Regions from separate parts of the Homo sapiens genome. Here regions 1, 2 and 3 are each linked to region 4. Evidence: fine-mapped expression QTL. A gene starts in region 4. Each other region holds a variant in brackets. All regions are shown on one strand. Distances are between the middles of the regions. Region 1 overlaps MYO7B (myosin VIIB). Region 2 holds the start of GPR17 (G protein-coupled receptor 17). Region 3 overlaps MYO7B (myosin VIIB). Region 4 holds the start of LIMS2 (LIM zinc finger domain containing 2).

The links.
Region 1: its variant is fine-mapped to the expression of LIMS2 in whole blood (TOPMed, PIP above 0.99).
Region 2: its variant is fine-mapped to the expression of LIMS2 in tibial nerve (GTEx, PIP above 0.99). The same link has a PIP of 0.9 or more in sun-exposed skin.
Region 3: its variant is fine-mapped to the expression of LIMS2 in whole blood (INTERVAL, PIP above 0.99).

Annotation. Positions count from the first base shown.
Region 1 is chr2:127,634,936-127,642,398 of GRCh38, reverse strand. It overlaps MYO7B (myosin VIIB), which reads right to left. Exons shown (of 48, transcript NM_001393586.1): 43 at 7,173-7,279; 44 at 6,492-6,677; 45 at 6,075-6,191; 46 at 5,771-5,854; 47 at 5,486-5,605; 48 at 4,673-5,083. The coding sequence ends at 4,982. LIMS2 (LIM zinc finger domain containing 2) reads left to right here. Exons shown (of 10, transcript NM_001161403.3): 6 at 200-350; 7 at 1,411-1,503; 8 at 2,081-2,129; 9 at 2,254-2,329; 10 at 2,971-3,973. The coding sequence ends at 3,118. Among named protein-coding and RNA genes, the nearest start is that of GPR17, 7.5 kb to the left of the region's middle. RefSeq lists enhancers at 2,760-3,705, 3,706-4,652, 4,653-5,599, 5,600-6,546. The variant T/G (reference allele first, on the strand shown) is at 3,807.
Region 2 is chr2:127,645,814-127,653,276 of GRCh38, reverse strand. All of the region lies in intron 4 of LIMS2 (LIM zinc finger domain containing 2), which reads left to right. GPR17 (G protein-coupled receptor 17) reads right to left here and starts at 7,124. Exons shown (of 2, transcript NM_001161417.2): 1 at 7,033-7,124; 2 at 638-2,561. The coding sequence starts at 2,541. The coding sequence ends at 1,522. RefSeq lists enhancers at 811-890, 1,410-2,135, 2,136-2,863, 3,269-3,563, 3,590-4,317 and 1 more. The variant T/G (reference allele first, on the strand shown) is at 3,905.
Region 3 is chr2:127,617,579-127,625,041 of GRCh38, reverse strand. MYO7B (myosin VIIB) reads right to left here. Exons shown (of 48, transcript NM_001393586.1): 27 at 4,576-4,702; 28 at 2,941-3,060; 29 at 1,667-1,840; 30 at 722-949. Among named protein-coding and RNA genes, the nearest start is that of MYO7B-AS1, 9.5 kb to the left of the region's middle. RefSeq lists an enhancer at 4,794-4,843. The variant C/T (reference allele first, on the strand shown) is at 4,054.
Region 4 is chr2:127,672,430-127,679,892 of GRCh38, reverse strand. LIMS2 (LIM zinc finger domain containing 2) reads left to right here and starts at 4,363. Exons shown (of 10, transcript NM_001161403.3): 1 at 4,363-4,879. The coding sequence starts at 4,869.

The DNA of each region.
Region 1 (7,463 bases), 37 kb after region 4:
TGCAGGAAGTCTGTGCTCCAGGGCCTGTCTGGGGCACAGGAAGTCTTCAAAGTGCCCAGAGATCAGAAGGCGCTGCCGCCTCGGCTCTGCAGGGACAGAATGGGCCCCTCGGGGAGCCGTGCCCTGGGGTGGAGGCGCTGCTGGCATGACCCTGCAGAAGGGCAGGGGTGGCACCTGGGGGCTGCACGCTGTCTTCCAGGAAGGAGCTGACAGCCGAGGCCCGCGAGCTGAAGGGTGAGCTCTACTGCCTGCCCTGCCATGACAAGATGGGCGTCCCCATCTGCGGGGCCTGCCGCCGGCCCATCGAGGGCCGAGTGGTCAACGCGCTGGGCAAGCAGTGGCACGTGGAGGTGAGCCAGGCTGGTGGACACGTGGCCTCAGGTTGGGGGGTGCCCCAGCTCAGGGTCATGGTAAGAGCCCTAAAGCTCCTCCACACTCCCAGCCCAGGGCGGGTGGCTGGCTCCCAACGAGGCCCTTCCTCAGGGGTACTGCCCCTCCCTGTGCTCAGCCAGGGACCCCAGCCTGCCCACGGGAGCCAGGAGACCCGAGTGCACACACACGGTTGGGTAGCTGTGCCCACCTCTCCTCTTCCCCCTGCTGGCATTCTAAGAGACTCCAAGGTCAGGAGAAAACCTTGGGGGCAGTCTGTCCAGAGTGCCTGGGGGTTGTGGATGACAGAACCCGCTGCATGGACAGCCCTGTGCAGACACGGAGCTGAAGAGTTCCTCAGGTGTGAGCACTGGGTCACCTGGAGTGCCCCCACCGGGTGGTGGGCTCTCATGTTCTCATGGGTACACTGGGAACAGTGAGCCCACCACCTCCCCTGATGACCTGGCCAGCGCTGTGTCCGGAAGCTGTGCCTTGGGTGGCGGCTTGGGTGGGAGGCCATGCGGTCCTGCCCTGATGCAGGCCCCAGCCCCCAGCCCTCATCCTCACATGCAGATCCCTGGGGGAATGCAAGGTGCTGCTCAGTGATCCCAGGCTTGCAGGGGGTGCCTGCAGGAGGCCCCACGTGGACAGGCAGGGCCGCCTCTGCCTATGAGGGCCCACCATGCCGCAGCACCAGGCTGGCACCTGACTCCTGGGGCTGAGGCTGCCGAGGGGGAGGCCAGACTGGGAGGGGATGGTGACTCACAAGGTTACCATCAGTGCCTTAGAGGAGGGGTAGGGTCTGCTGACCCCAGGGCATTCACAGAGGTGTCAGTCCCCTCTGCCCAGTGTGAATCCTGAAAGGCCTGCACCTGCCCAGACTCTGCTTTCTGTCCCCTTCTGTCACTGCTGCCTCCTGGGGCCACTGTGGTCCCCTGGAGTCACTGGCTCCTGGGGTCACTGTTGTCCCCGGGTCACCACTGTCCCTCGGGGTCACCGCTCTAGCCCTGATGCCACCCGGCCCGCCCTTTGTCCTTGCAGCACTTTGTCTGTGCCAAGTGTGAGAAGCCATTCCTGGGGCACCGGCACTATGAGAAGAAGGGCCTGGCCTACTGCGAGACTCACTACAACCAGGTGAGCCCGGTGCAGAACCTTCAGGGATGCGGGTCTGGAGGGGTGGCCAGGAGAGCTGCCGTGAGCAAGGGAGGCTGTGGGCACCCCCTCAGGAGCTCTGCCAGGTGCTGAGCCCAGGCCTGCACCCTCAGCCCTGGCTCCTGGCCTGGGGTCTCGAGACCTGGGCAGCTCTCTTCAGTCTCAGTGTCTTCCTTTGAAGAATGTTCTGGGGCTGGTGTGAGGTCCCGGGCACATGGGGCTGACAGTGCCAGCAACCCCCTCCCTCCCTTGCTCTGGTACAGAAGGCAGGGGGCGCTGGTGGGATGCAGTCACCACCTGGGCCCACCTCCTTGCAGGACAGCAGTGGCCAGAGCAGAGGGGCCTTCTGGGGAGCAACGCCCCAGCCTGTTGTCCTTCCCGGAAGGGTGGTTCTCATGGGTTGCCGTGCCCTCAACCCAGCCTTGCAGCTGGGCCCTGGGAGGCAGGGCCTGGGAGATGCCTGAGAGGGGCCGTGTTGGAGGGCCAGGCTGGCTGCATGATGGCCCTGGGCTGGGGTGTGACTGCCTGCAGCTACTCTGACAGCCTGCTCGGCCCACAGCTCTTCGGGGACGTCTGCTACAACTGCAGCCATGTGATTGAAGGCGATGGTGAGGCCCTGTGTTCCCTCCCCCACCCCACCTGCTCTCCTGGGGCCTGGGTGCTGCAGCTGTGAGCCCAGCCGGGCCTGCGGCAGCCTAGCCAGGCCTGCTGAGTCCCACGCTTCCCTCACAGTGGTGTCGGCCCTCAACAAGGCCTGGTGTGTGAGCTGCTTCTCCTGCTCCACCTGCAACAGCAAGCTCACCCTGAAGTGAGTCCCTGTGATCGTGGGATGGGGCTCAGGGTGGAGGGGGCTCCTGCAGGTCCTTCCTCTCAGCAGCCCTCCTGCACACCAGCTGAGTCTGGCCTGGGGATATGGTGGGGACAAGGGGCAGCCCGGCCTTATACCACCCAGGGAGATGGGGGCAGGTTCAGGGGGTCTAGGGGATCCAGGGACCCCAGGGACCCCAGGCACAGTGAGAGGAGGAGGAACACTCATGCCTCCAACACACCTGCCAGAACCCTGGGCTCTGGGGAGGGAAGGGCATTCCAGCTCAGGGAACAGCATATGCAAAAGCAGCAGTGTCAGCTGCTCATCCAGGAAGCCTCGAGGGGTGTGGGATGGCTGGAGCTGGGAGAGGAGAGATGGCGTCCAGGTTTCCAAGGGCTGTGGGGAGGCATAGAGGGTTCTGGGGTTTCAGAACCTGAGAGAAGCCTCTGGGAGGCAAGGGAAGCCTCAAGGCCCTTCTCATCCCTATGCTCTCTGGCCATCTCACCCTAGGGCCTGGCCTGCTGGCTAGGAGAGGCTGGTGTGGGGAGGCTGGGGGCTGAGGGAAGCCCACTCCACAGTCACCTGTCTGGGGTTAAAGGGGTGGGCGTGGGGCTCTGCTGACAGCTCAGCTTCCTCCTCAGGAACAAGTTTGTGGAGTTCGACATGAAGCCCGTGTGTAAGAGGTGCTACGAGAAGTTCCCGCTGGAGCTGAAGAAGCGGCTGAAGAAGCTGTCGGAGCTGACCTCCCGCAAGGCCCAGCCCAAGGCCACAGACCTCAACTCTGCCTGAAGGCCCTCTTGCGCAGCTGCCTCTCGGCCCCTCCGCCTTCTCCCCTCCTGCTGTCCATGCTTGGCCCCCTCGTCCCCATCCACCTGTGCCCTCCGCATCTTACCCTCCCTTTCTCTTTCCTCATTGCCTTCTCCCTTCCTGTTCCCTCATCTCTGCCTTCCCCATGTCTCTCCTCTCCTTGGCCGTGGCTTCTGTCTGTGAGGAGGCAGGAGCTGGGGAGTGGGAGCCTATGACCCCACGTCTGACAGCCATGTCCACCTGTGCCCACAGCTTCCGCCCACAGACCTCCAGGGACAGGAGCAAATTGCACCACAGCTCCCCGCCTGGCCTGGCCCTCCCCAGGCGGCTCAGTGGCTCATGCTGTCCTGTGAGAGCCCCTGCCCCAGAGCGGCCCCACTAAGCGCATGTGGCTCCTGGGCTACCCACAGCCAGGGCAGCCTGCTGGAGCCACAGGGCCAGGGCCATGCAGATGGAGGCCTCTGGGAGCCACCTCCAATCCCTCACCACTCACTCAACCAGTGGCACAGTGTCCTTGTGCCCACACTGAGCCAGCAAGTCCTGCTGTCCACACCCACAAGCTACCTGGAGGGACAGGACCCACCTCCATCCTTCGGAAGGCCTTCCTGGAATCCCACCTTGGCCTCCGCCCTCGGTTCCGCCCCGCCCCTCTCCCCCCGACCTTGGGGCT[T/G]GTGTCGAGCCCTTGGGTGGGGCCAGGAGGAGGTGATGGCGTCAGAGGAGGTGTGGTCAGAGGTGACTTGTTCCCACCTCCAGGGAGGACGCTTCGTCTTCGGCCAGCGCAGACCTGGTGTTTGTTTGTTGGGCTCACGCTTGCACAATGAAGGCTTGTTCACACAACCACAGCAGCCTGCGTGGTTTGTGGCGGGGGTCGGGGGTGGAGGGGATGGCAGCAGCTCTGGACACGCTGCTGCTGGGGCAGTTGAACAGAGGGACAGACATAGACAGGCACGAGTTCAGGGGGCCCTAGCCTCTATCCCAGGCCAGGCTGCCATAAGCAGTTGAAGACTAGCCCTGCCAGGTCCTCACAAGCCTGGGTGGCCAGGTCCACATAAGCTGGCCCAGTGGGCAGAGGAGGAGGTGGGCAGGGACAGGGCATGCCAGCGAGGTGGGGGAATCCAGGCCTCCAAGGTGCTATGTCCAGCTCTGCCCACTGTCTGTCTGGGCATAAGCTGGCCATAGCATGAAGCCAGCAGCCAGAGAGCCGCACCTCCACCCTGGCCTCCTGGGGGTAGCGCAGGCGTATCAATGCCCCGGGTGGGGAGAAGGACAGAAGGTGTGAGGAGGGGCCTGGGAGGAGAACTCTCCCATGAGTGCCCCTCCCCAGTCTGAGAAACAGGAAGGAAGGAAGGGAGGGGGAGGAAGGAAGCAGAAAGGGAGGGATGAAGTCATTTCTGGAGAATGCAGCTGCCCTCCGGGTTCCCTGGGGGAGTCAGTCACACGGCATTTTGGTTTTTCTGCAGCTCTCTGCGGGCCAGAGCCTCCCAGGCCCCCTGTCCACCTTGTGCCACACCCTGCTCCCTCAGACAGACACACTTCTCCTGCTCCAGGAGTTTTTATTGAACATTCTGGTGGGGTGGGGTGGGGTTGGGAGGTGTCCTGTCAGTCAGTCATCCACCAATAGCCTGGGGGTCCGAGACTCCCGACCCCATTCTGGGCCCGTCTTTTGGCCTCCCTGGGCAGCGCCCAGGACAGAGGGGGCCGCCTGCGGGGCTGAGTGGGCTTTGTATGGGGGGCAGCATGGAAGGCTGCCCGCCAAGGACAGGCCCTGGGTTGAGAGGGCCTGGGAAGGTGCCGCCAGGCTAGAGGTCGGGAAGGGCGCCTGAGCAGACACGCCAGCATCCGCTGCTAGGTGCTGGCCAGGGCTGGGGCCTTGGAGCCCCGCTGCTTGTTCATGGCACTCAGGAGCTGCTGCACATATGAGGTCAGCAGGTCATCCATCTTATAGCCCTGGACAGGGGACGGGGGGGTCAGAGGCTGTGGGTGCAGAGGGCAGGTGGGGGTCCTGGACTCAGGGACCACCTTCTCTTCCTCAGCAACCAGCAGTGCAGGGCATGGAGAAAGGGAAGGCGGGCTCCTGCCATTGGGGCCGTCATTTCTGCTTGCCCTGCTGGAGCTGGGTCTCCCTCCCTCCTTGGAATGGGCCAAGGGCGCAGGGGGTCCCGCCTGGCCTTGCCACCTTGGCTGCTGGTCCTGGGGATGCACCCAGGCCCTCTCCAGATCTGCTGGCCCCGCCTGGGCCCTGTGACTGAGCCCTCTTAGTGAGCCACTTGAAAGGGGTGAGGGTGGGGAACCCAGTCTCCAGCAGCTCTGTCCTATGCATCTTGGATGGGAGAAAGAACCTGAGCTCACCAGGGAGGTCTCGCACAGCAGGCGGCTGCCACGGCCCAGGCTCCCCAGCGCCATGTGGAAGTAGGTGCTGCCGCTGCTCCAGCTGGAGATCTTGGTGAAGGGATAGGTGGTGAGCAGGTCCTGGGGGCAGAGAGGGTGGGTGGGCCGGACGCCTCCAGAGCACGGGCTCTGTGTGTGTTAGGGGACAGGAGAGAGGCAGGACACACCGCAGAGATGACTGCAGCCCCACCTGCACAGGTCCCTGGACCTGGTGGCCCCCAGCCCCTCCGGAGGCCCAGCAGCTACCTTGGTCTTGGGGTGGATGAGCAGAACCCCATGTCGGTTGATGGCGATGAGGATGACGTCCGGGTAGGAAGGCTCCGAGGTTTGCTGGGAGGGAGGGACACGGCGGTCATAGTCCAGCCCGGGAGGCCAGGCTGCACCTCCCAGGAGCTCATCTAGGCCACACGCACATACACACATACACCCACGCCCTCCAGCCTCACGGCCAGCCCCACCCAAGATGTGTGCTGGTTGACGCTGGGCCTGCTGGGGCTGGGCTGAGCGGAGCCTGCTTGGGTAGGAGGCCCTGGCGTGGGGCAAGGTTTACCTTCACCTCGAAGAAGGCGGATCCGAAGGTGGGCCACCGGCAGATCCACTTCAGGAAGGCCACCTTGGCCTCCTCCACTGTCTTGTCCTTATGCTTGTCATAGGCTAGAAGGATGCTCTGGGGGACAGGAGGGCCAGTAAGGACTTGGGTGCCCAGAGGCCCTCCAAAGCCCTGGTGGGGGCAGCACCTGCCTACCCCAGGGCTAGTACGGTGGGGAGGGGAGGGGAGGAATGCAGCATGGGACAGTCTCGGTGCTGTGGATGGCATAGGAAGGCGTGGTGTGTGCAGAGCCAGCCCACCCTCCACACCACCCATGTGCACCCATGTGATCTTGGAGCCCAGGCAGGGCATGGCACTGGTGCAGGGGCCCAGGGAGGAGCAGCAGCACAAGAACCCTTCCCCAGCCCGACCAGGGACCTTTTTCCACTCCTCCGAGGACATCAGGCGTGTGAGGTTCTCAGGCACCAGTTCCCTCAGGATCTTGGGGACACTAGCCAGCTGGGACCGGTCGTTGTTGAACTGGGCCTTGTAGATGAGGCCCGCCAGGTGGATGGCATCCTCCCGCGAACACTTGTGGAATCCGCGCAGGTACTTGGGCAGCTCCTGGGTGATGGACACACTGGGCATGCTGGGTCTCCAGCTGCGGCCCACCCGCCCCCAACCTCTTTCCCGCTCAGATGGTGGGGAACTGGGGCTTAGCCCACTCCATCCAGGACGGACTGAGCAGGGTAGAGAGTTTCAGGCCAGGGGAATGACCCTGAGTCAGGGCAGGGCCCCCTGACATCTGCGTGGAGGTGATGGCCTGCTCCACCCATGTGGTTGGCCCTGCAGGCCACGGCCACTGCTCCATGGGTCACAGGACCCTCTGTCCCACCCTCTCCAAGTCATGCTGCAGGTGCCAGTGCAGTCACTGTCCCCAAACATTGCTGCCCTCTGCTCCTGGTTCCAGAGCCCTCAGGGGCTTGGTCTGCCTACCACATGGGCTGGTACCCAGGGCTGAGGCTGGCCCTGCCCTGGCCTGCTGGCTTCTACAGCCTCAGAACAGGTGTGGGAAGATGGGGGTGGCCCCAGTGCCCACCAGGGCAGCCTGCCCGGTACCTGGTGGTAATGGAGTATGGTGTCTGCATTCACATCCTTCCCTGGAGATATGTTGAGCCACAATTTCCGCATGAAGTACACCTGGTAGGGGAGCGTCACGGGGGCCCCTGGGCGAGGGCCAGCAGTGGGCACCAAGCCTGTCCCAGCAGGTACACCAGCCCTGACCCCCTGCCACCCCCCACACTGCGCCTGCCACCTCCCTGCCTCGAAAGCCCCCACGCTTCTTCCTCCCCAGTCCCCACATTTTCCTTCAATATTAGTGTAGAGGCTGCCTTCTCCAGGAACATTCCT
Region 2 (7,463 bases), 27 kb after region 4:
TGCTTCCCCTGCCACACTCTCTCTGTCCGGGCACTCTGCTCCCTCCCGCAGCTCCTCCGAGATGCTTCCCCGACACTACCGAGCTCTTGTCCGTGTGCTGCCCGTGAGAGAGGCACGTGGCCTGGGGCCTGGCGTCCGGCCCACTGTCCTCGGAGCTGGGCGGTGCCTGGCATTGAGCAGCTTGTCTAAATGAAGGGCTGAGGGGCAGACGGTGCAGTGCAGGGGCCGAGGGACAGCACCAGGAGCTCGTGCTGACCAGCAACGTCGCCGACAGGGTGTGTGGAGCGAGCCCAATCTCCTTCCTGAGCCAAGGTTTGCACAGGGCCACTGCCCCAAGGGCTGGTTGGGGAAATCTGAAAGATGCTGGAAACGTTTTGGAAAGTCAAACATGCTACAAAAGCATGTTGCCGTAAGGACGGTGCAGGGTGGCAGCTAGAGTGAGGAATGAGGGCCCCTACTTGGCCCTCCCAGCCCCACAGTGCAGAACCTCAGAATCTGGGCAGATGTGCTGTGAGCTGCCAGAGCCCCAGCAAGAGAGCCCACGAGGCTGCCTCTGCCACTGTACCACCACTTCACCATTCTTGGGTCAGAGAAGTTCTGGGAAACGCTTCATGTTGACCAAACATAACAACCTGTGTAGTCTTAAAGCTACAGTTATATTTATGGTCCGTACAAACAAATACAAAAAAGGACATGTTAGGGAAATATCTGCACACTAGCAAGGGAAATAGCTCAGGCGGAGAGAGGCCTCTCTGGAGGAAGTGGGTCTGGGTCAGTGGGAGGCAGGTGCACAGCCCAGCCCTGGCCTGAGCTGAGCTCCCGTGACTGCACATGCTTGTCCAGGACTGGGAGGCCTGGGAGCCTGTCAAAGAGCTCTGGGGGTTGCAGGCTTGTGCGTGGGGTTACAGCAGGAGAGATCCAGAATCCAGAGCTGTGCTGAGTCCCTGCAGGCCGTGAGTGCTGACGTCCGCTGGCAACCAGCCTGAAATGTGTGGCCTGTGTCTCTTCAACTCAGGCAGTGTGTGTCTGGCAGAGGCACTACAGAGGGGACTCAGAGTACCTTGCACTGCAAAGGAGTATTGAGACTCCCTCCCCGTCCCCACCAGGACTCCCAGGTCCCTCTTCTGGGTCATTTGCAGCCTGCCTTCAGGGTCTTTCTGCTGAGCCTCGCCGATGAGCGATTCTGTAGCGGGAAGGAGGCTGGGAGCCTAGCGGGAAAGAAAGGCCTCCATTGTTCAGGGGTTGTTCTTCCGGCCTCCTCTCTCCCTGCCACAGATGAAGTCGTTGAGTGTCTAGGAGCCATTGTAGCCATCACAAGCCCCTGCAGAGGGGTGGCCGATGGATCCCCTTTGTCAGTTCTTCCTTTTTATGGGTTGAGACTAGGCGATCTAGAGAAATGGTGGGCATCTGCTGAGATTTCAGGTTGCTTGCTGGGGAGGTGGCTGGGGAAAGGGCAGATGCCTCTTGCTGGGTCTGCTGAGTCCTAAACAGTCTGCGCTCGGCCTGGACGGCGCCCCCCGCTCACAGCTCTGACTTGGCACTCAGCGAGCTCTCGTTGGTTTTCCCTTCGAAGCTGGGGGGCGGGCCCTTGAGCCTTTTGCCACAGAGCAAGTTGCACAGGGCGTGGCGGAACTTCTCAGCCACGAAGAAATACATGATGGGGTCGAGTGCCCCGTTGAGGCTGGTGAGGCAGGAGGTGATGCGGTTTGCCAGGGCCAGGATGCGCTGGGTGGCGCAGGAGGCCCCATGGCTGCGGTAGTGCAGCACGTAGACGGAGCGGTTGACGTGGTAGGGCACGAAGCAGACCAGGAAGATGGCCAGCACTATGGCGATCATGCGCACTGCCTTGGTCTTGAGGCGCTTCTCCACACGCAGGCCCTGCCGCAGGCTGCGGATGATCAGCAGGTAGCAGGTGACCGTGGTGATGAACGGGAAGGTGAAGGCCACTGCCAGGGACACCAGGGCATGGTGGGAGGCCTTCTCCCGGTACAGCTGCAGGCAGACCACCGTGTGGTTGGTCTGCACGGTCTGTGGGCTCACCAGCAGCGGGGCCATGGCCACAGCCACCACCACCCACAGGAAGGCACAGGCCAGGTGTGCGTAGAGGGGCCTGCGGAGCTTGAGGGACTTGACCGGGTGCACAATGGCCAGGAAACGGTCGGCGCTGATGCAGGTGAGGAAGTAGATGCTGGCGTACATGTTGAGGTAGAAGAGGAAGCCGGTGAGACGGCATGCGATTTCCCCAAATGGCCAGTGGTTCCCAGAGAAGTGGTAGACCAGGCGGGTGGGCAGGACCAGCACGCACGACAAGTCGGCCACGGCCAGATGCATCAGGAACACGTTGGCCGGGGTCCCGGACTTGTGGTCTCGGATGAAAAGCCACAGAGCCAGGGTATTGCCAACTAAAGCCAGGATAAAATCCAGAAGGTAGAAGGAGGCGAACAGCATGTTCTCCAGTGGCGTCTCCTGGCCACATTGCTCTGCCGTGGCCAGGGAGAAGTTGGTGATCAGACCTGGGGGAGCCACTTCAAGGCCATTCATGCTTTGGCTGGAGTCAGAGCCTGGAGGGAACAAGCAAACAGTTCACAATGAGCTTGCGATCTAGGCAGCTTCACGCTCTCTGAAGTCCAGAAGTCAGGCCTCCAATGCCTTCAGAACCTCCCACTTTCAAGCTCAGCACCGCCCACGGGGCTGCTGAGGGGACCTCCTTGTCCATTTGGTGTGCGTGAGCGTCAGAGGCATTCTGAACTTCAGCACAAGGCAAACGCAGAACCAGGGCTTGGAATTTCGCCGCTATGCAGCTGCACCCCTGCCACCCAGGAGATCTGAGGCTCCTCAGAGCTGGGAGGACCGGGTCAGTGCCATGGCGGGGAATGGGACGTGAGCCTTGCCTGGGTGAGGCTCTGGGTTTTCTGTTCTGCCTCTGAGGTGTGCTGTCTGAGTGACAGGGGTGGTGAGGGGCGGGGGCAGTGTGTCTCCGGGATTCCAGCTCCTCCTCAGCCCAAGCCTTGGCAGGTGAGTTCTGTTCATCCTGAGTGCCTGGACCCTCCCTGACCCACCTGCCCACAGGTGCAGTGGCCGGGGTGTCACCGCTTTCTGCTTCCCCTGACCATGGCTTGCCCCTGGCACTTAGGAGGGTGCCCCCAGGATGGCAGCAAGGGCTGTACCCTGGGACGTCAGAGGTCTACTCTTTTTACCCACCTGAGAGTTTCAGCATCTCTCTTGGGGGCTTTCTGGATCCAGCCCACCAACTCCGTTTGGACATCCTGACAGGTGGGGAGACCTGTGTTTAGGAGAAGCCTGTGCCTGGGTATCAGGCCAGCTGGGAGTATTTTCTCTCCCAGAGTAGATCCACCACCAGGGGGCAGCATCTCTTCCAGGAGGGGAAGACCCATTTTACCCAGCGTCAGAGACACTGGCCAGCGCTGTTGAGGACGGATCTGCAGCCCCAGAGAGGCCTGGAGGCCTCGTGGCTTGCCCACGTTTGAAGGCCAAGTGCAGAGCCCTGTGACAGTCCTGGGTAACAAGTCATGTCCGTCTGGTGAACCCTGGGTCTGGATAGGGTGCTCCCCACCCTCAGCAGAGAAACCCACTCTTGTTTTGATTTTAGTCAACTCAGAAGATTGAAGAAGGAGAGTGAGGGTCCCAAACACTCTGCCTCCCCAACCCAGGCCTGCGAGTGGCAGTGTGGGCAGGCGGTGGGGCCAGAGCAGCCCGCAGCCCGGAACCAGGGCAGGACAGCGCACCTGGCCTGCCTTTGAATTGGGGTCACCAGCGGGCTTCGGCCAGGTGGGTGCTGATGATGGCACAGCTTCTGGGGCTCCTCTGGGCACCTGGCTTCCCAGTATCCACCATCCCCACCCTGCACAGCCAGGCTGAAGCAGAGGCTGGAGAGAGGTTTGCA[T/G]AAGAGAAGCTGGCATCCTGCCTGTGCCCATTGTGGCAGCAGGAGGGGAGGAGGCACGGGCCACAGCCCTGGCAGGGTCCTCATCCTGGGCGAGCCTGGCTCTGCACCGAACAGCCGGGGTCCTGCCTGCAGCAAATTCACTCTGCACATTTCTCCCTGCCCTTCCTTCCTTCCTTCCTTCCTTCCTTCCTTCCTTCCTTCCTTCCTACCTTCCTCTCTCTCTCACTTCGCTTTGCTTGTTTGCTTGCTTTTCTTTATTTTCCTTTTTTCTTTTCTTTTTTCTTTTTTTCTTTTCTTTTTCCTTCCTTCCTTCCTTTCTTCTTTTCTCTTTCTTTCTTTTTCTTTCTTTCCTCCCTCCCTCCCCTTCCTCCCCTCCCCTCCCTCCCCTCCCCTCCCTCCCCTCCCCCCCTCCCCTCCCCTCCCCTCCCTCTCTTTTTTCTTTTTTTCTTTCTCTTTTTCAAGGTCTCCCTCTGTCACCCAGGCTGGAGTGCAGTGGTGCAATCAGCTCACTGCAGCCTCAACCTCCAGGGCTCAAGTGATCCTCCCACCTCAACCTCCTGAATAGCTGGGACTACAGGCGCACACCACCACACCCGGCTAATTTTTGTATTTTTTGGTAGAGACGGTTTTGCCATGTTGCCCAGGCTGGTCTCAAACTCCTGGGCTCAAGTGATCCTCTCTCCTTGGCCTCCCAAAGTGCTCCTTGGCCTCCCAAAGTGCTGGGATTACAGGCATGAGTCACTGCGCCCAGCCCCTCTCCTCTTACTGATTCCACAGGGCTGTCTCAGGATGCTGGTGGCACGGGGCAGAGAGGGCATGGTGACTGTTCATGGACACAGCAGCCCCTCGAGGAGGAGGCTGGAGCCATCCTCATATGGAGGAGAAGCAGGCATGGTGGTGGCCCTAGCCCTAGGGAAGGGTGGGCCGCACCCTTCCTTCAGGAGAGCGAGTGGCCAGCTGCTGTGGCCCTCACATGGAGGGTGAGGGCTGGCCCGAGCACCTGGCCATCAATGTCCTCAAGCAAAGGGGAGGGCAACTACCTAATAATATTACCTTTTAGCTATTTCTCTAGGCAGGTTCCCCTACCTGAAAAGATTGCCCCCGGCTTCAGAGTGTTTCAAGATGCCTGAAGTTCTAACACCAGAGATGGTTTCCTGCTGCTTCCAGGAACAGGGTCTGTTCTTAGTCCAATGTGGAGTTCCTCATGGGGACCCCATTCCCCAGGAATCCAGGTTCCACAGTACTCTGACTTGGTCTGGCTGGTCTCGGCTGGCACTTTCCCTAGGACTGCTAAAACCACGGTGAGGGCGGAGAGCTGAGGGCCGAAGAAGGCGGGGTGAGTGATGCTTGGGAGAGGGAGACAGGCTTGGCTGAAGCCCTGGGGAAGGGCTGAGGGCTGTGAAGGGGGCTGTGGAGGAGAGGTAAAAGGAGGGAGGAACACAGCCCTTGACAGGGCCTGTGAGGCAGGGGAGAACAGGGAGCAGGTACCGGTGGGACGGTGGCAGGGGAGGGGGGCCCATGACTTTGAGGGTGTCGTGTTGCATGTGCTGGGGGTGAGGACCCGGAGACTGGAGGAACAGGGCTCCAGGGCAGACGCATGGGCAAGCAGAGAGGACAGCCCATGGTAGATGGGAGGGGCACACAGGTGTGCTGTTTTCAGGTTGGCAGGAGAGGAGGAAGGTGTGTGCGGGGAGGCCCTGGAGACTGGAAGAGGAGAGGGGGCCCAGTGAGTGAGGGGCCCTTGTTAGAACCTGGGGGTGGGAAGGGGCCAAGGTGGGTGCCCTCCACCCCAGGCTGTCCCTCAGGCCTGTGCTGTGCCCCACAGTGCAGGCATCACCTGGCCCCACGAGAGAGCAGCTCATAGGTACGACTGACCACTCTGCCTGGCATGGTGGGGGCCTGCCTGTGCTGGCTCAAACCAGTTTTAGCCCCATGTTGCAGGTTAGGGAGTCAAGGCTGAGTGTCTGCTAACTTGTCTTAGGTCACTTGACCAGGGGACATTGGCCCTGGAGCTGGAAGTGAGACCGGGGAAACGGTCTCACTCCCTGGAAGACCGCCAGGGTGGGGAGTGTGACTCAGTCTCAGAGTTTGCCATGGAGTTGTCTCCCAGGCTCAGCACCCCCTCCTGGCCCTGGGGCCACTCCCTCATTTTAGGGGCCCATGTATGAAATGAGAATGTGCAGCCCCTTGCTCAAAAAGGAAGAGTTTCAGGACAGTGACGGCAGAGTGTTACTGGGCTCAGGGCCCTGAGTGACGGCAGGGGTGGCATATCTCATGGCACCAGGTGGGCCTGTGGTGCCTCCTGCCTCCAGCCCGGGGGCCTCAGCCTGGGCACTGCCCTCCACTTCCTGCCCGGGCCGAAGGGCGTGCCCCTCGCTCTCTCTGGGACTGAGACTCCATTTTAAACAGCTTTCTGGTTGGTTTCAGGTTTGCTGAGGTTTCTTCTCCCTTTCTGTCCCCCGTTTGAGGAGTTCTGATACTGATTGTTGCAGTTTGGTCTGAGATGGGCCCCGCTTCACTCTCTGTTGCCCTTTAGAAACACAAACTTCAGTCTAGACTCGCTGGTTCCTCACGACTCACTGGTCAGACGGCCACCGAGCCGGTGTCCGTAAGAGGAAAGGGCGTGGCATGGGCCGGGGCCTGGGCAGTGTTGGGTCCCGTGGCTGTGGGTGAGTCGAGCATCTAGGACAGGTCATAGGCCTCTGTGGAGGTGGCAGGTGGGCATGTGTGGCCTCGGGGAGGGCCTGTGGTGGCAGCGCCATGGCCAGGTGGTGGCAGTTTCCTTTGCATTAGCGCCACTCCATCCCTGGCCCGAGCCCTCTCCCAGGCATCTGGCTCCTCTATGGGTCAAGGCTGCCTAATGGTTAGGGGCAGCGGTGCTGTCATTGCAGCCTGGACTGCCGGCAAGCCACTTCCCCTCTGCAAGCCCCCATCAGAGGGACGAAACACCGCTTTGTGGGCTGCTGTGAATTCAGACTGTGGTCAGCCTTCGATGCACAGGTCAGACCATCACCAAAGAGATGGGACGAGACAGGCTGCTGCCTGTCTCCCTGGGCAGGGCTCCCCGCTGAGTGTTTCCTCTGCTTAGCCCTGGGCTCCCAGTCCACCCCACCCAGCCTGCCCCTTACCTCTAGCTGCTGGTCCGGGAGGAAGGGACAGGGGTCTGCGGGGCAGCAGGTGATCTCCGCCCGTGGGTGTCGGTGGTGGCAGGGGGCTCCTTGCCGCTGTGGGTGGAACGCTGGCTATTTAAGGAGAGGAAGGGAGACCACAGCCCCTCTGGCCCTGAAAGGCTGCTTCATTCCTGAGGGGTCCCTTGTTGTGTCGGGCTGCTCCTCTGGCTGCTGCTGCTGCTGCCACCGGAGCGTGAATATTCTAGTGTGTCCCTAGCCCATGCCCCCCGCCCCCAGCTTGGCCACATAGTCTGAGTGTGTGACTGTCTCAGAGACTCAGAGCAGGCGGGGGCTGGGTGGGGGGCTTGGGCTGGAGCTGAGGGACACAACAGGACGTTTCAGAAGGGGATGATTTCCTACTGATGGGGGGCAGGGAGGGGCCGGCTGTC
Region 3 (7,463 bases), 55 kb after region 4:
TAGCCCCCCTTGCGGAGTTTCTGCTGGGGCCCAGCTGGGCAGCACCCAAGGAGCCCCTTCCCTCTGGAAGACCAAAGCCTCTTGGAGCCTGGTCCCCTGCCACCCCCTGCCCATGCCTCTTCCAGGCGGGCTTCCTGCACTGCTATGGCCGCCTCCAATGGGTCCCGGAACAGCATCTGCCTGACTTGGCACAGGGAGGGTTGTGCCTGCTGCCCCCAGAACTTCAGGGGTACGATCACTCTGCTTTCTCACAATCCCCTACAAAAGAGCTCCCGGTACACTCCGCACGGTCCAGGTGAGAGCCCCTCCCGAGCCCCCCAGTCAGATGAGGGCCCAGGGCTCTGCGGTGACAGGACTTTCCAAGGTCACAATGCCAAGAAGATGGGGAGGTGGGATTCAGACTTAGGTGTTAGGGCTCCAAGGCCATGTTCTTGGCCACCAGATCTCACTGCCCCATAAACAGAGCAGGAGAGGTGAGGCCAGGCAAGGCCTGGGCCCTCTGGGACCTGCTGCCAGAACCACGGACCCCGGAGGCTTGGACATACCTGTGGCCTAAGGGAGGAGGAAACAGAGGCTGGGCCTGGAAGGGACCTACACCCTTGTGACCCCCTTTCCTGCCCCCCCACCTTCTACCTGGCCTCAGAAGCCAGTTGGGTGCCTCCTCTATGGGATGTTTCCTGATGGCAAAGCCTAGGGTGGACCTGGCTCTCAGGCCCCTCACCTTCTCGAAGCTGTACTCGCCAGACCAGACTCCTCGGAGGACTTGGCGGTAAATAAGCTCGGTGCTGACAGGGTCCTCCCGGGAGTCGTGCCAGGGGGTGAAGAATTCCTTCCGGAAGTAGATGCGCCAGGGTGACTGGCGCTGGCTCTCGCCCCTCTCCTGGGCCATCTGCTCACACCGGGCGATGGCATCCATCATGTGGTCGCGCCCGCTGCCCAGGGACCAGAACTGAGGCCAGAGTCGGGGAGCAGGGGTTAGCGGCTGTTGCATGCCCCACCCCACGGGGACGCCCACCGTCAGCGTGTGCACGTAGAAGACAGGGCCTGGGGCCCTTGGAGCCCAGCGTGGGCTGAGTGGACACTGCTGAGCCCGTGTGGACACCTGAAGGGCTTCTCCACACAGCAATGGCCCATCTGCCACTCCCCATTACTCTCCCTGCAGCCCCTTCCCTAAGGAGGCAGACATGAGTCTGGCCGATGTGACTCATCCGGCGCCTCGGTTGGATGACTGGTGTGTGAGTCTGAGGGTGTGGGCGTGGAATTGGGGGTGCCTATGTGGGCGGTGAGGGTCTGTGCTGGTGTGACCCTCCATGTTTGCTGCAGGGGTGTCCACAGCTCCTGGGCATGAGGGAGTTTGGAGCAGGAGACTGGTGTGAGTGCCTGATGTCTGTGCGTGGCTGCTGGGTGGGGGACCAGGTGTGCATGCGGCACTGCTGGGGCTGAGGCGCAGCTGCAAGGTGACCATATGAGTGCGGGAGGAAAGGCTGTTTGCTCTGTGTGTGTGCACCTGCCTGTGCCTGGTGGCTGGGAGGGTAAGCAGTGCTGTGCCTGGCAGCTGGGAGGGTAGGTGGTGGCCGGGCTGGAAAGGTGAGAGGGCTTGAGCCTCAGGGTGCTCTCCCTGGGTGTATGAGGGAGGCGGCTGACGGGCAGGGTGCCTGGCTGGTACCTTGTCGTACACGGCGACCTGGAGGGAGAAGCCCAGGTGGTCGCTGAGGCCCTGCTTGTGAGCGATGTGCATGCACATTTCCCGAGATGTGGAGGCTGAGTCCACGGGGACGGTTAGGCTCTCTCCAGTGGCCAAGATGACTTGGATGGGGATGTGCTTCTTGGACTTGACAGCCTGGGGACAGATGAGATTCAGTTCCCTGGCCTCTTGGAACCTATGGACAGGAGGCCAACCCCCCATCCACTACCTCCCTCCTCTCCCCAGCCCATGGGCCCTGCTTGCCATCCCGTGGGTTCCCAGGGGTGGGCCCTCTGAAGCCCCAGGCCATGGGCTTGGCATAGAAAACAAAATTCAGGCCAACAGGTGTTTGCCGCTGGAAGCACAGCAACCAGGCAAGAGCAATGTTAGCCACAGGCGTCCAGGTCCTCCTGGACCTCCAGTGGGGGCAGCCTGAGGCCATAGTGGCTGCTTTTATGAGAATCCTGAGCTTGGTGTGGTTCAGTGACTTCACCTCACAGAAGACCAGGAGCTCTTGGGAATCTGAGTCCAGGACTCGGGAACATTTTGGGGCCTTTACGTATTGTTCCCTTGTGTCAACATGCACAGCTACTGCAAGTTCACCTACAATTCCAGGGCTCGTGGGAGGGAGCCCCTGTGGGCTCGGGGGCAGGGTGAGAACAGAAAGAAGGTGCAGCGGAAGTGACCCACAGCTCCTGGTATAGGGCACCTCGGGTCACAGGGCGGGCACCTGCCGGGGTTAGGCTGGGGCCAGAGCTTTGTGTAGAGCCGGGTGCAGGTGTGCTCTCGCCACCCTGGCTGGCTGTTCTGAATGACCCTTCCTGAGAAAACAGCGAGAATTCACAGATGACACAGTTGCCAAAGCAGGTCGAGGTGGCACATGTGCCCAATAGCAATGCCACCAAGGATGCCAACCATGGTGTGACTACTGCCCTTGTCACCAAGTGAAATGCCCTTGGAGGGGAGTGCTGGAAGCAACTGGCGCACTGTAATGCTAATGAGTGGGTCCGGTGATCTTCCCCTTAGCTAGTAGGGCCCTAAAGGAATATGGATTTGGAGATGGGGGTCACGCCTGGGGAGGCCGAGCCCCAGGGGCACTCACAGGGACCACTGGCATGGGAGGTACTGCAGAGGAGATGGCGGGGCTCAGAGGACAAAGTTCTGTCCTAGGAGAAGGCACCCCATGAGCTGTGCTGGGGGTCCCTGGGGGTCTGCACCACCCCACCCTGCCCGCTCTCACCCCTGCCAGCCCCTACCTGCAGCTCCAGCCAGGTGGGGGGCTCCGCACGCACCCCATTGGCATAGGTGCGTCTCAGGCGCTCGGCACAGAAGGGGCCGTAGGTCGCCGGCCCTTGGCCGATGAAGTTCAGTAGATACTGGTGGGTGAGGAGGGGAGAAGGGAGGAAGACACTCAGAAAGGAGGCCAGTTTCTACTCACCACCCAGGTGGACTTAAGAATTATAATACTCAGTGTATAATGTGCATTGAGGGGCACCCTCACACCCGTTAGAAGGAACATGGATCAGTGTGTTTCTGAGGAGCAGTTTGGCAACACGTTTTAAACGGTGCATAGTCTTGATGTGTGCACACTCTTTGTCACAACAATGCAGGCCTATCCTAAAGGTGGATGTGTGGTTTTTGATTGTGATGGCCTCTATGGTGATGAATGACTGGAAGATGGACTCTAAATGCCCACCCCCAACCCCAGTGCCTTCTGGAACAGCGAGGCATCAAGCTGGCATTTGGGAGGTTGACACCATGAGAAAACATAATGAAGACAGTAAATGAAAAGTGCAGGGCCAGGCATGGTGGCTCACACCTATAATCCCAGCACTTTGGGAGGCCAAGGTCGGAGGATCACCTGAGGTCAGGAGTTTGAGGCCAGCCTGGCCAACATGGTGAAACCCCATTTCTACTAAAAATACAAAAATTAGCCTGGTGTGGTGATGCACACCTGTAATGCCAGCTACTCGAGAGGCTGAGGCAGAATTGCTTGAACCCGGGAGGCAGAGGATGCAGTGAACCAAGATCGCTCCACTGCACTCTGGCCTGGGCGACAGAGTGAGACTCCGTCTCAAAAAAAAAAAAAAAACAAAAAAAAAAATTGCAGAAGAGTCCATGTCCCCAACATGCTCAAGAAAACACATTGAAGTTCTTTTTGTCTCACAGAGAGATGTTATTTCTTCTGCCTTGGGGTGGGGAGGAACAGCCTGGAAGGGTTTACTGGTGTCAGGAGCAGCCTGAGTGCCATGCGCAGATGGCTTCAGTGACCGTGGTTCCTGCTGTCCCCAAAGGGACATGTGAGAAAGTGTTTTCTGTTTGATCACAAGGACCCTGTAACACCACAAAAGGCCAGAAGGAAATATTAA[C/T]GGAAGTTAGCTCTGAGTGTGGGGGTGACTTTTATTTTGGTTTTAGATGTTCTGCATTTCCACATATTACTTTTATAATCAGAATTTAAAGGCATATTAAATCAGTGAAGCTTGGGGCCACTAACACTCGGCCAACCCAGCTCCATTTTCAGTCCTAAGAACTAGAAAGAGGTGCCGTGGCACATCTCCAGGCAGGGCCCACTCCTGGACACCTGTCTTTTCAAGGCCCGTGTCATCTACCTTCTCATTTTAGTCTTGAAGCACCATCCTGACACCTGAGCCAAAGTGAAATGGCCCTGCAGACCCTGCGTAGGGGCTGGAAGGAGCCAGGAGCAGGGTCCTCTTTTCCAGATGGGGAAACTGAGTCCTGGAGAAGCATAGGCATGGCTGCCCATCTGGCCTGCAGGAGCAGGAGAAATGGGCCACGTACTGGAATCTGTGGACCTGCTCCAGGGCCAGGGGCCACCTACGCTCCCACCAGAACCTGCCCCCTGCCCGCCCTCCCTTCATGAACCCTCTCACCTTCATGAACCTCTCTGAGGGTGGGAAGCAGCCGAGGCAGAGGCTGAGCAGGATCCAGCCCCGGGCCAGGCTGCTTGTTTTGAAGTTCTCCGAGAGCTGCTTGCAGATCTGGCAGTAAATCTCATCCCTGAAAGACACAGACCATTAGGAGAGTAGGCTGGGGGCTGGAGGAGGAGAGGAGACAGGGGTACCTGGGCACACAGCTCTTGTGCACCTCTGAGAGGTCCCATATGCAGGGCACCTCTCCAGCGCCGGGGCCCTGCCCAGCCTCCTCCTCTCTCAGGACAGTGCCACCAGGCTCTGCATCCCTACTCGATTCCTCTCCCATGGCCTGTGCTCTCGGTCCTTTAGGGTGGGGCTCGGCTTCAGGAAGCAGCAGGTTCTCCAGCCACAGCCCTGTCCTCAGCAGCCGCGCCCTTTGCACAGCCCATCTGCTCCCAGATGTGCGGGATCCCCAGTCTCACGGTGATTACAGTCATTTCTCTCTCTGCCTTGAGGCCCCACCTCCCTCCCTGAATGCAGCCCCTCCCCTCCACAGCAGAGAGAAAAGTGAGGACTTCATGGGAGCCACTCAACCCCATCTCCTGACCATTCCTACTCCCACGGTCTGTGGAGCCTCCCCACTCCTGGTGGGGGTGTGTTGGGGGCGGTTCTCTCCTGCGTCCTTCCCCATGGACTCAAGCCTCTATCATGTTATAAAAGTGGCCCATTAACACCTCAAATGCCACATCTCCAGAGGCCAGCATCTTTCCCCTAATACTCAGTGGTGTGCTGGTAAATGTTTATCAACCAGCTCCCCCAAGAAGAAAAGCCCAATTCACAGCATTTGCTTATTTCTGTGGTGTACATGTTCCCACCAAAGCCAATGTCAACTGCGACACGACATCACCGAACAGAGATGGGAAGCAATGTGCATGGCTGGCTCTCTGAGTTCCTGCATCCCTCCTCTTTCTGTGGTCTACAGGCATCGCCATCAGCCATTCACCCAAACTGGAAATCTGGGGGTCATCCTGGAGCCCTCCCATCCCTTCATTCCTCCAATCCAACCAGCCCCCACCATCCATCCAGCCCCCACCACCCAGCCGGCACCCACTACTCAGCTGGCGCCCACCACCCAGCCGGCCCCCACCATCCAGCCCCCACAACCCAACCAGCCCCCACAACCCAACCACCCCCCACCACCCAGCCAGCCACCACCATCCAACTGGCCACAACCCAACCAGCCCCCACAACCCAACCACCCCCCACCACCCAGCCAGCCACCACCATCCAGCTGGCCACCACAACCCAACCAGCCACCACAACCCAACCGGCCCCCACAATCCAGCTGGCCACCACAATCCAACCAGCCTCTACCATCCAACCAGCCCCCACAACCCAACCAGCCCCCACAACCCAACCAGCCCCCACAATCCAACCAGCGCCCACCATTCAGCCAGCCCCCACAACCCAACCAGCCACCACAATCCAACCAGCCCCCACGATCCAACCAGTGCCCACATGCTACCATCTGTCTCCTGCATGTTTCCTCTGTCCCCTCCTCTTGGCTCCTGTTCCTTGGGCAATTCCTCATCAGCTCTCTCTGGATCTCTGTAGCAGCCCTGCCTGGCCTCCCAGCCCCAGGCTCCATCCTGCCACATCGCCAGGGAGGTCTTTCTGGAAGTCAAATATGATCAAGATCCTCTCTTGCTTAAAACTTTCCCCACTTCCCTTAGGATGGAATCCAAGCTCCATGCCCCAACAATGGCAAACCACTCATAAATTCCAGACCCTGTGGGCTGTCTCAAGGGTGACTGATGCAGGCCGAAAGAGTGAGGGTCGTGATCAGCTCAGTATACCACTGGAGGCTATATGAGCAAACAGCAAACTGTTCTCATAAAAGCAGAATGTTGGCAAACTGACAAACTGCGTCTGCCGCCCAGAAGGAATGCTGAGGGCAGTCACGACCCAGGCACAAGTGTTTCTTGTGATTATCTACAGGGCACACCTGAAGCCTGTTAGTAATAATATGAACCTGTGATCAGTTAAGCAGCTGACCAATCGTTACCTCCTCCTCCCTGCTTATTCTACCCAATAAATACTAAGGGCTGAAGAAGCTTGGGGTGGGGGCTGTCTTTGCTTACTAGGAGTAGGGAGCCCTTTTTCTTCCCCTGGCCCCTTTAAAACAGTTTCTTTTGTTTTAAGTTTTCATTTCTACGTTCATCCCCCTTCGTTCCGTCTCGTAATGACGGTCTCAAGTAGTGACAGTAGTAACTCCCGTAATGACGATCTCAAGTAGTAACAGTGGCAAATTGCTGCAAGTGCTGCCTGGACAGGGACGTAACAGGGACAATCAGGGACAAACAGACCTGAAGGGACCTGAAGAGGCCTGCAGGGACAAATAGAGATAAGTAGGGATAAATAGAAATAGAGACAAATAGAGAGAGCTAGGGAAAGACAGGGACTTGCGGGAACTAACAGGGACTATAGGGACAGATAGGGATAGACAAAGACTAGCAAGGACTAGCAAAGACTAGGAGAAACTTGCAGGGACAGACAGGAACAGATAGGGACAATAGGGTCCTATAAGGACTTGAGCGAGGAAGGTCTGCTGGAGCAAAAAAAAAAAAAACTAAAGCCCAGAAAAAACTAAAACCAACCAGATGAATAAGAAACCCCGTTACAAGGCCGGGCGCGGTGGCTCACGCCTGTAATCCCAGCACTTTGGGAGGCCGAGGCGGGTGGATCATGAGGTCAGGAGATCGAGACCATCCTGGCTAACAAGGTGAAACCCCGTCTCTACTAAAAATACAAAAAATTAGCCGGGCGCGGTGGCGGGCGCCTGTAGTCCCAGCTACTCGGGAGGCTGAGGCAGGAGAATGGCGTGAACCTGGGAAGCGGAGCTTGCA
Region 4 (7,463 bases):
CCCAGGACCTGGGCTGTGGCAGGAGACCCTGAGGCCTCCTGAGAGCTGCAAGGCCTTCTCCATTCCCTGTGGTCACATGGGGACAGGGCTGTGGCTCTGGATATTGGCGGAGGCTCATTGAGGCACTTTGAGACCCCGGGTTCTCCTCAGCCTCCTACTGCTGATTAGCCACGCTGACCAAGCCCAGCCCCTCTCTTGGCCCTGGGTCCCAGCTCCCACGAGCGTTGGGCCCTGGGCTGTCTCAGGTAGCTGTCCCCTGGAGTAGGGAAGGGAGAAGGTGGGGGGTGGAGAAACTCGGGTACCTGCCCAGCAAAGGGGGTGCCCACCTGCCCTGAACCCCAGAGGGCAGAAGGCTCGTGCCCAGGGAGATGCTGCACCTCCTTCACCTTCTAGGACAGCTGTCATGTCACTCTGTGGCCCAGCCTCAGCCTCAGAGCCCCACTGTCCCCCAGCGAAGACTAAGTGTGTGATTCAAGCCACTCTCTGAATGTCCCTCAGTGATGCCATCCCATAAGACCTGGGAATGGACACTGCATTCTCACCTTCCCTCCCCTTCCCCTCCCCACTTCCAACTGCCGTCTCTTCTCTGCCCCCCCTTTCAGAGCATTCTCCCCCCAGGGGCACTGTGTGCAGCACTCTGGGGAGCACCATCTACACAGACCCCAGGGAGGGGTGCTCCTGGGGGAGGCATTGCAGGGGCCCTGCCTGCCCCTCTGCAGCTGGACTCAGGCCCCTCACTCCAAGGGACCGGCTCTTGACCCAAACCCAGATGCTTCCCTGGCCTCTGCACGCAGCAGTGTGCACACGGGGCAGTGGCGCACCTCCTCCCTGGAGCTCTTTCCCTCCGGGCTTCTGTGGCACCTCACACTCTCCTGCTCTCCCCCTCACTTTCTGCCAGTCCCACCTCTTACCCTTGGAGGGCTCCTGACTGGTACAGACACCCCAGGGTCTCCATGGAGCCCTAGAGTTGAAATTCCATTTGTACCAAGCCTTCTGCATCTACGCTGGAGAATGGACCTCTCTTCCCTGCTCCAGGTTCACAGTGCCCCGCCCACCATCTCCCCTGGGATGCCTGGGGAGGGCCCAATGCAACGTCACCCCTCGCTAACCTGCCCAGACTGTCCCACTGCCACCAATATCTAGGAAAGCAAGGCCACCTGCAAGTCCTCTTGACTCCCACGGCTGTACATTCACACCTGCCACACACACACCTGCCCCACAACCACCACACCTGTGCTGACCACGCCCACGCCGGCCACACACACACATCCAGATTCCCAGCAAATCCTGTTGGTTGCAAAATAGATCCTGTGTTTGATGCCTTCTCAATGTCCCTACTGTCGCACGGCCCAAGGCACCAGTCCCTCCTGGACGCTCACCATAGCCTCTAATCAGACTGTCCCTGAGACCACTCTGTCCCTCACACAGTGGCCACACAGCAGCTAGGGACACTTCCCCCTTTTGCTATGAAAAAGTTCAAGCACTCATCAAAGTTGAAAACCCAGATACCCACCACCTAGATTCTCCCATTAATATCGTCGTAGACTCACGTTACCACCTCTCTGTCCTTCCCTTTACCCATCTCCCCATCTTGAGTTCATTTTTTAGAGGCAGAGTCATGCTATGTTGCCCAAGCTGGTCTTGAATTCCTGGCCTCAAGTGATCCTCCCTCCTCAGCCTCCCCGTAGCTAAGGACTAGCTGGGACTACGGGGATCCACCACATCGGCTCATCTTGATTTAAACAATGTATTTCAAAGTAAGTTGCAGACATCAGTACCTTTCTACCTAAACACTTCAGCATTGTATGTCATTAACTGGAGTTCAGTATCGTTTACGGTATTTTTCTTTTGAGGTAAAATGTACATATAATGAAATGTGCAAATCCTGGCCATATATTCCATGAGTTTTAACAAAGGCATATACACTTGTGTGACCCAAACTCCTACTAAAACATTGCCTGTTACCCCAGAAACTCCCTCACATTCCTTCCTAGTCAACCCCTGTCCTGCCACCTCAGGGCAGTCCGGGGTGTAATAGACCAGCCTGAGGCAGCCACCGTTCTGATTTTTTCTACCACAGACAAATGTTGCCTATTCTAGAACTTGATATAGATGGAAAAGGTGCTCTTTTTTCATTCAGTCAGTATTTCTGAGATTCACCCCTGCTGATGCTAGAGTGTTGTGTCTGTCTTTGCTTAGAACTCTCCATCTAAGGGTGGAATCCTACTTCTGCTGTGGCCCTGCTGCTCTGCCCTGGGCCCTCTCCTTTATTTCCCGTGCCCCTCCACCTGCCACCTCCCCTTTTTCCAGACCCACTGGTCTTCTTTCTGACCTTGCGTACCCCAAGCTCATGTCACCTCAGGGCTGTTGCACTTGCTGTTCTGCCGGAATGCTTTTCCTGCAGATGGCTGAGGGCTGGCTCTTTCCCTTATTCTGGTTTAGCTTGAATGTCACCTGCTCAGAAACTTTCCCTCACCCTTCACTCTAAAGCAGCCACCACCATTGTCCTTTTCTTTGCAGCACTTACCCTTGTCTAAAATCTAGTTTGCGTATTTATTTATTTGTTTATTGCCCATCCTCCACCTCCTGCTAAACTCCATGAGAGCCTGGTCCATGGCTTCTTTCTCCCCCTAGTACTTCCAGTGCCCATGCGGTATAAATACTCTTGAAGGAACAAGTGGATAAGTGTGTGAATGTGTGATTGCCAGCTCTTTCCTGCAACTCTGCCCTCTTGGCTGAACTGTGGGAGGCTGGCCCTGGCTCCTTGAAGCCTCTGCATCTCCAGCAGGGCTAAGCCATGCCCACAACCCCTACCAGCTGTTACTGAGCTTGCCCTGGCCCAGGGATGAGGCACACTGGGAGCTGCATAGGGTCCTGGTTTGGCCACATACAGATCCGTGTGTGCTCAGCTATCATATGCAGGGAGGCTTTTGGGCTAAAAGGCAGGAATGTGGTCTCCTCTGTGGAGAGCATGGGCCTCTGGTGTAATGCTTTCAACTTTTCATCCTCTTTGGTTCCCACAAGACCCTGATATTCAATTAACCGTCCAGCAGTGGATTTCTGGTGCACGGCCCCAGCATGCCTACACCTCTGTGTCAGTAATGGTGGAAAGCCTTTCTCCCTGTATGAGCAGGTGAGCCAAGAAATTATCCATACTTAAGCTTAATCAACCATCAAATTACAGTTAAGCCGAATCAGCTGAGACACGCTCGCAACAAGAAGTAATAACTCGAGACAGTCGGATCACCTGAGGCCAGGAGTTTGCAACCAGCCTGACCAACATGGTGAAACCCATCTCTATCAAAAATACAAAATTAGCTGGGTGTGGTGGCATATGCTTGTAATCCCAGCTACTTGGGAGGCTGAGGCAGGAGAATCGCTTGAACCTGGGAGGCGGAGGTTGCAGTGAGCGGAGATTGCACCATTGCACTCCAGCCTGGGCAATAAGAGCGAAACTCCGTCTCAAAAAAAAAAAAAAAAAAAAAGTAACAACTGCAAAGGCACTCCACAATACCAGCCACTTAGGAACAGGTGTCTTTTCCCAGCTTATTTCTGCAGGTGGAACTGCAGGATACTATCAACTCATCTTTCTGAACGGCACCAGTTTATTTGTGGGTTGCTAATTCACACCGTCATTTCTAGATCATCTTTCTCTGCTGCCAAGACCGGAGTAGCACCACATTTACACATCAGGCCGCCCAGCTCCCAAACCTCAGTGTGACATCTGGGCTGCTTCCAAAGATGAGCTGCACGCCACTGTCCAGCTGGAAATATCTGCCTTTAGGCAGGGCGGGGGTTTTTTGTTTTGTTTGTTTGAAAATTTCCTCCGAAGAGATTCCCTAAATAGTTTATATTACCCCTCCATCTTAACGCCTCTAATGGTAGCTTCTCAGCGCTTCATTATACAGAGGCGTGCCTGGTTCCCCTGGAAACCTGGGAGCTGGGCATTTGGTTTTGTCGTTTAAGAAATATCTTTCGCCAAGTTAGGGCGATGGCCCGCAACGGGGGATGAAATCGGAATTTCCCGGGGAAAGCAGCTTTGCGACTGAAGAGGGACGCCTCTCGGCTTTAGCCTCCCTGGGGGCGGGACTGCGTGGACTCGGCGGTCCCGGGTGCCTCGGGAGGGAGTCAGTGCCCAGATCCGCGGTGGGAACTCCGGGCTAGGAAAGCCCGGGAGGGAGGTGGTCTCAGCATCGCCCCCACGCCTACCATCTCCTGCACGCGTTTGCGGTTGGGGCGGCCCAGGGACTGCAGAGGGGGCGCCGGGCGGGGCGTCCCGGCGGGGCTGTGGGGGTGGGGGTGCTTGTTCGCGTTTATTATAACTTTACTCCCTTTAAAAGGAAAGCTATGCCCGGAATCCAGGAGGTGGCGAGCAGAGCCCGGGTTGGGAAGGACTTGACCCGCGCCCGCCGCTGGCCGCGCTCCGTGTCCCTGGAGCTGGGGCTGTGCGGGAGCGGGGCCCACCCTCTACCTTTACCCCTACTTTTACCCCCACTCCCACCCCCGCCTCACTCTCACCCCTCCAACCCCACCGTCAGCCCCACCTTTAACCCCCACCCCTCCAACCCTACCCGCCGCCACCCCCACCTGCCACCCCCACCCCCACCTATACTCCCGCAACCTCCCACCGTCACCTCCCCAACACCCCCACCACCCTCAGCCTTGACCTCCCCATCCCACCCCGCCCCGCGGGCCCCACCCTGCCACCCCCGCCCACCCCTCTCGCGGGCGGAGCGGCTCTTGGCCTTTTTTGGGCGTCTCCCTGCTCCGCGGCCCGGGCTGGCGGGCGGGCGCTCGGCTGGCGGCTGCAGCAGCAGAGGGAGACCCGCGGCAACCCCGGCAACCCAGGGCTCGGCGTCGCTGCCACCATGACGGGAAGGTAACGGCCCCCACCCACGCCCCCGGGCCGGGGAGGCGGGACTGCGGGACCCCTGGCCGAGGCGCAGCTCGCCCTCGTACAGCCCCGCGGCGCCACGATCCCCGCTCCGCCCTGGCGCGTCGGATTCTCGCAGCTGCCGGGGCGGCAGCGCCCGTCGGGGCAGGGGTCCCCCAGCCCCCGCGCCTCTTCCTCTGGGCGAGCGCCTGCAGCGGAAGGTGGAGCTCCTGCCCACCCGCCCGCTGCAAGATGGGACAGCCGTCTGCTCACAACCGACGCCCAGGGCTGCGGGAGGGGGTCTTGTCCAAGGTCAGACACCAACCACGGGCAAAAGGTTCAAAGGTTGCGTGCCTCCCCCAACTTCCCCGAGCCCGCGCTGTGCGATCCCCGATCCCGGTGAGTGTCATCTCTGGAGCCTTCCGTTTCCTCCTCTGTAAACCTGGGGTGGTAAAAATGTTAAAAATGTTGAAGGGTATGTTGGAACTTGGCCAGAGCTGCGCCCAAGCACCAGCTGTGCAGGGGTTGGTTGGGGACAGGGCGCTCCCCTGGGCCTGGCCCACCCTCTGCTCTCAGGCCCCTCGTTGCCATTTCACAGATGAGGTCACCAGAGGCCACAGAGGCTGAGCCACTCAGGAGGCCAGTCACAGGTCCACCAGTGTCCGGCCAGTGTTTGTCCCTGCAGCCCTTTCTGGAACCTAGCTGGGTACAAGTGCATGACTCAGGACTGGGTGGGAGGGGGCTGTCCCTGAGGCCCTGGTCTCCCCCAGCCAAGTCCTGGCAGGGGGATGCTGTTCTTCAGGATCCCATGACCTGGGGCTCTTGGGGAGCCCCAGCCCGGAGAGTGACCTGTGGCTTTGCTGGGGAAAGGGGCTTGGAGGGTACAGGGCAGTGTCCAGGATTGCAGTCTCAAATCCGAGGCCCACAGGGGAGCTGCCTCTGTGATCGCCATTAAGGCTGTGGCCTGGGGTCTCAGGGCAGCCCAGGAACCAAAAATAGCCTGTAACTTGTCACTTTGTAAGTCCTGCCCTCCAGACACACTTCCCTTTCTTCTCCCCAAGCCTCTCTTCCCAGTTAGCTCCCCTGACTTGGAGTCACCTCTAAGCCTTGGCCCAGGCCCCTCTGCAGTGAGATGGAGGGACTCATCCCCCGGAGAGTGGCATCTGCAGGCCCACTGGCTGCCTGTGGTCACCCCCTAGGGTTCTAGCGGGGCTGCCTCCCATTTTCCTCAGAGCATCCCTGCCAGCTGGCTGGTTCTCACTCTCCTGTTTTCTAGGAAAAGAAAGTGGGGAGAGACAGGAACAGGGTCCGGAGCAGCCCCAGCAGCAGCATTGAGGTGGAGGTGGGTGAGAGGCGGTTCCTTCAGGCACAGGAGGGATGTCGAGGAGAACAGAGCCGTGAAGGGTGCGGGGCTGGAATGGGAGGCCCCGAGGTGCCACTGCTCCCTGGCAAGGGTCCTCTTGCCCCTGAGTCCCTTGGGCCTTTCCCTGGAGACGGAGGCCGTCAGGTGAGCCCGGCCGGAACCGCTGGGAAGGCAGGTGGTGGCGAGCAGGGGTCAGCCTTCCCTTGCTGCTGTGGGCTCCAAGGGCCTGAGAAACTCTTACCCTCAAATGACACAGGGATGACAGTCAGCCTTTGGCAGGCACTGTGTAGGGCGTTCCTCGTCCAGGCAATACTACTCGTCTTAGAGAATAAGGAGAAACCTGGAAACATAAAAGATAACAGAAACATAAAGAGAAGGAAACTGCCACAGTTCCACTCCCAAGAGCCTCCCTTTATGCAGTTCGGTGGCTCCCCGCAGTCCTTTCTCCTGGAGTTTGTTTGACGCAGCTGTGAGCGATCTGAGTGTAATGCACCCGCTCCTTCAAAGGTGACCCTGCTGCCCGCAGTGCTGGTGCCCCACTGGCTTCCCTGCCTTCCATACACAGGGATTGGGCCGGGCCAGTCTGTGAGGAACAGACATCCAACCCGGCCTTCGGAGTGGGCGAGAGTTTTCCTGTCCCAGAAGCAGTGGAGTTTCATTTCCACCGTTTCATGCTGGGTGCCCTTCCCCACGTCCACTGTTCCCATGTGATCCCGGGCAGCTCCTCGTGCCTGGATCCTGGTTCTCTCGGGATCCCCCATGCTGCCCAGAGCCAGGCTGCTTTTGGGAAACACCCTCTCTGCTCGCATACCTTCAGGGCTTCTCCCTGCCAGCTCTCCCTAGGACCTCACCAGGCAAGAGCAGAGGGAGGGCTGTGGGGAGCCACCAAAGTGACCTGGAGTGGCATGTGTGGCCATGCTGTCTGCAGATGAACCCATGGGTGCTGTGTGGAGAAAGGGCTGCTGGGAAGGAGATGGGGAAGGAGACAGAAGGCAGCCACTAGGGAGGCCTCTCCTGGGTGGCTGAGCGGGTGGAGGAGAGGAGGCTGACTCAGGGTTCTGGGAGGTGGAGTGGACAGGACCCAACTGACTGGCTGTGAGGTGGGCCACAGAGGGTGGGGCTCGGGAGGATGCCCCTCCTGTGATGACAGGTGGGGGTGGATGGCATGCTTGGTGTGGTTGTGGAGTGCTTGAAGAGCTGTGGCAAGTCTGAGGGGGAGCCGTGGGA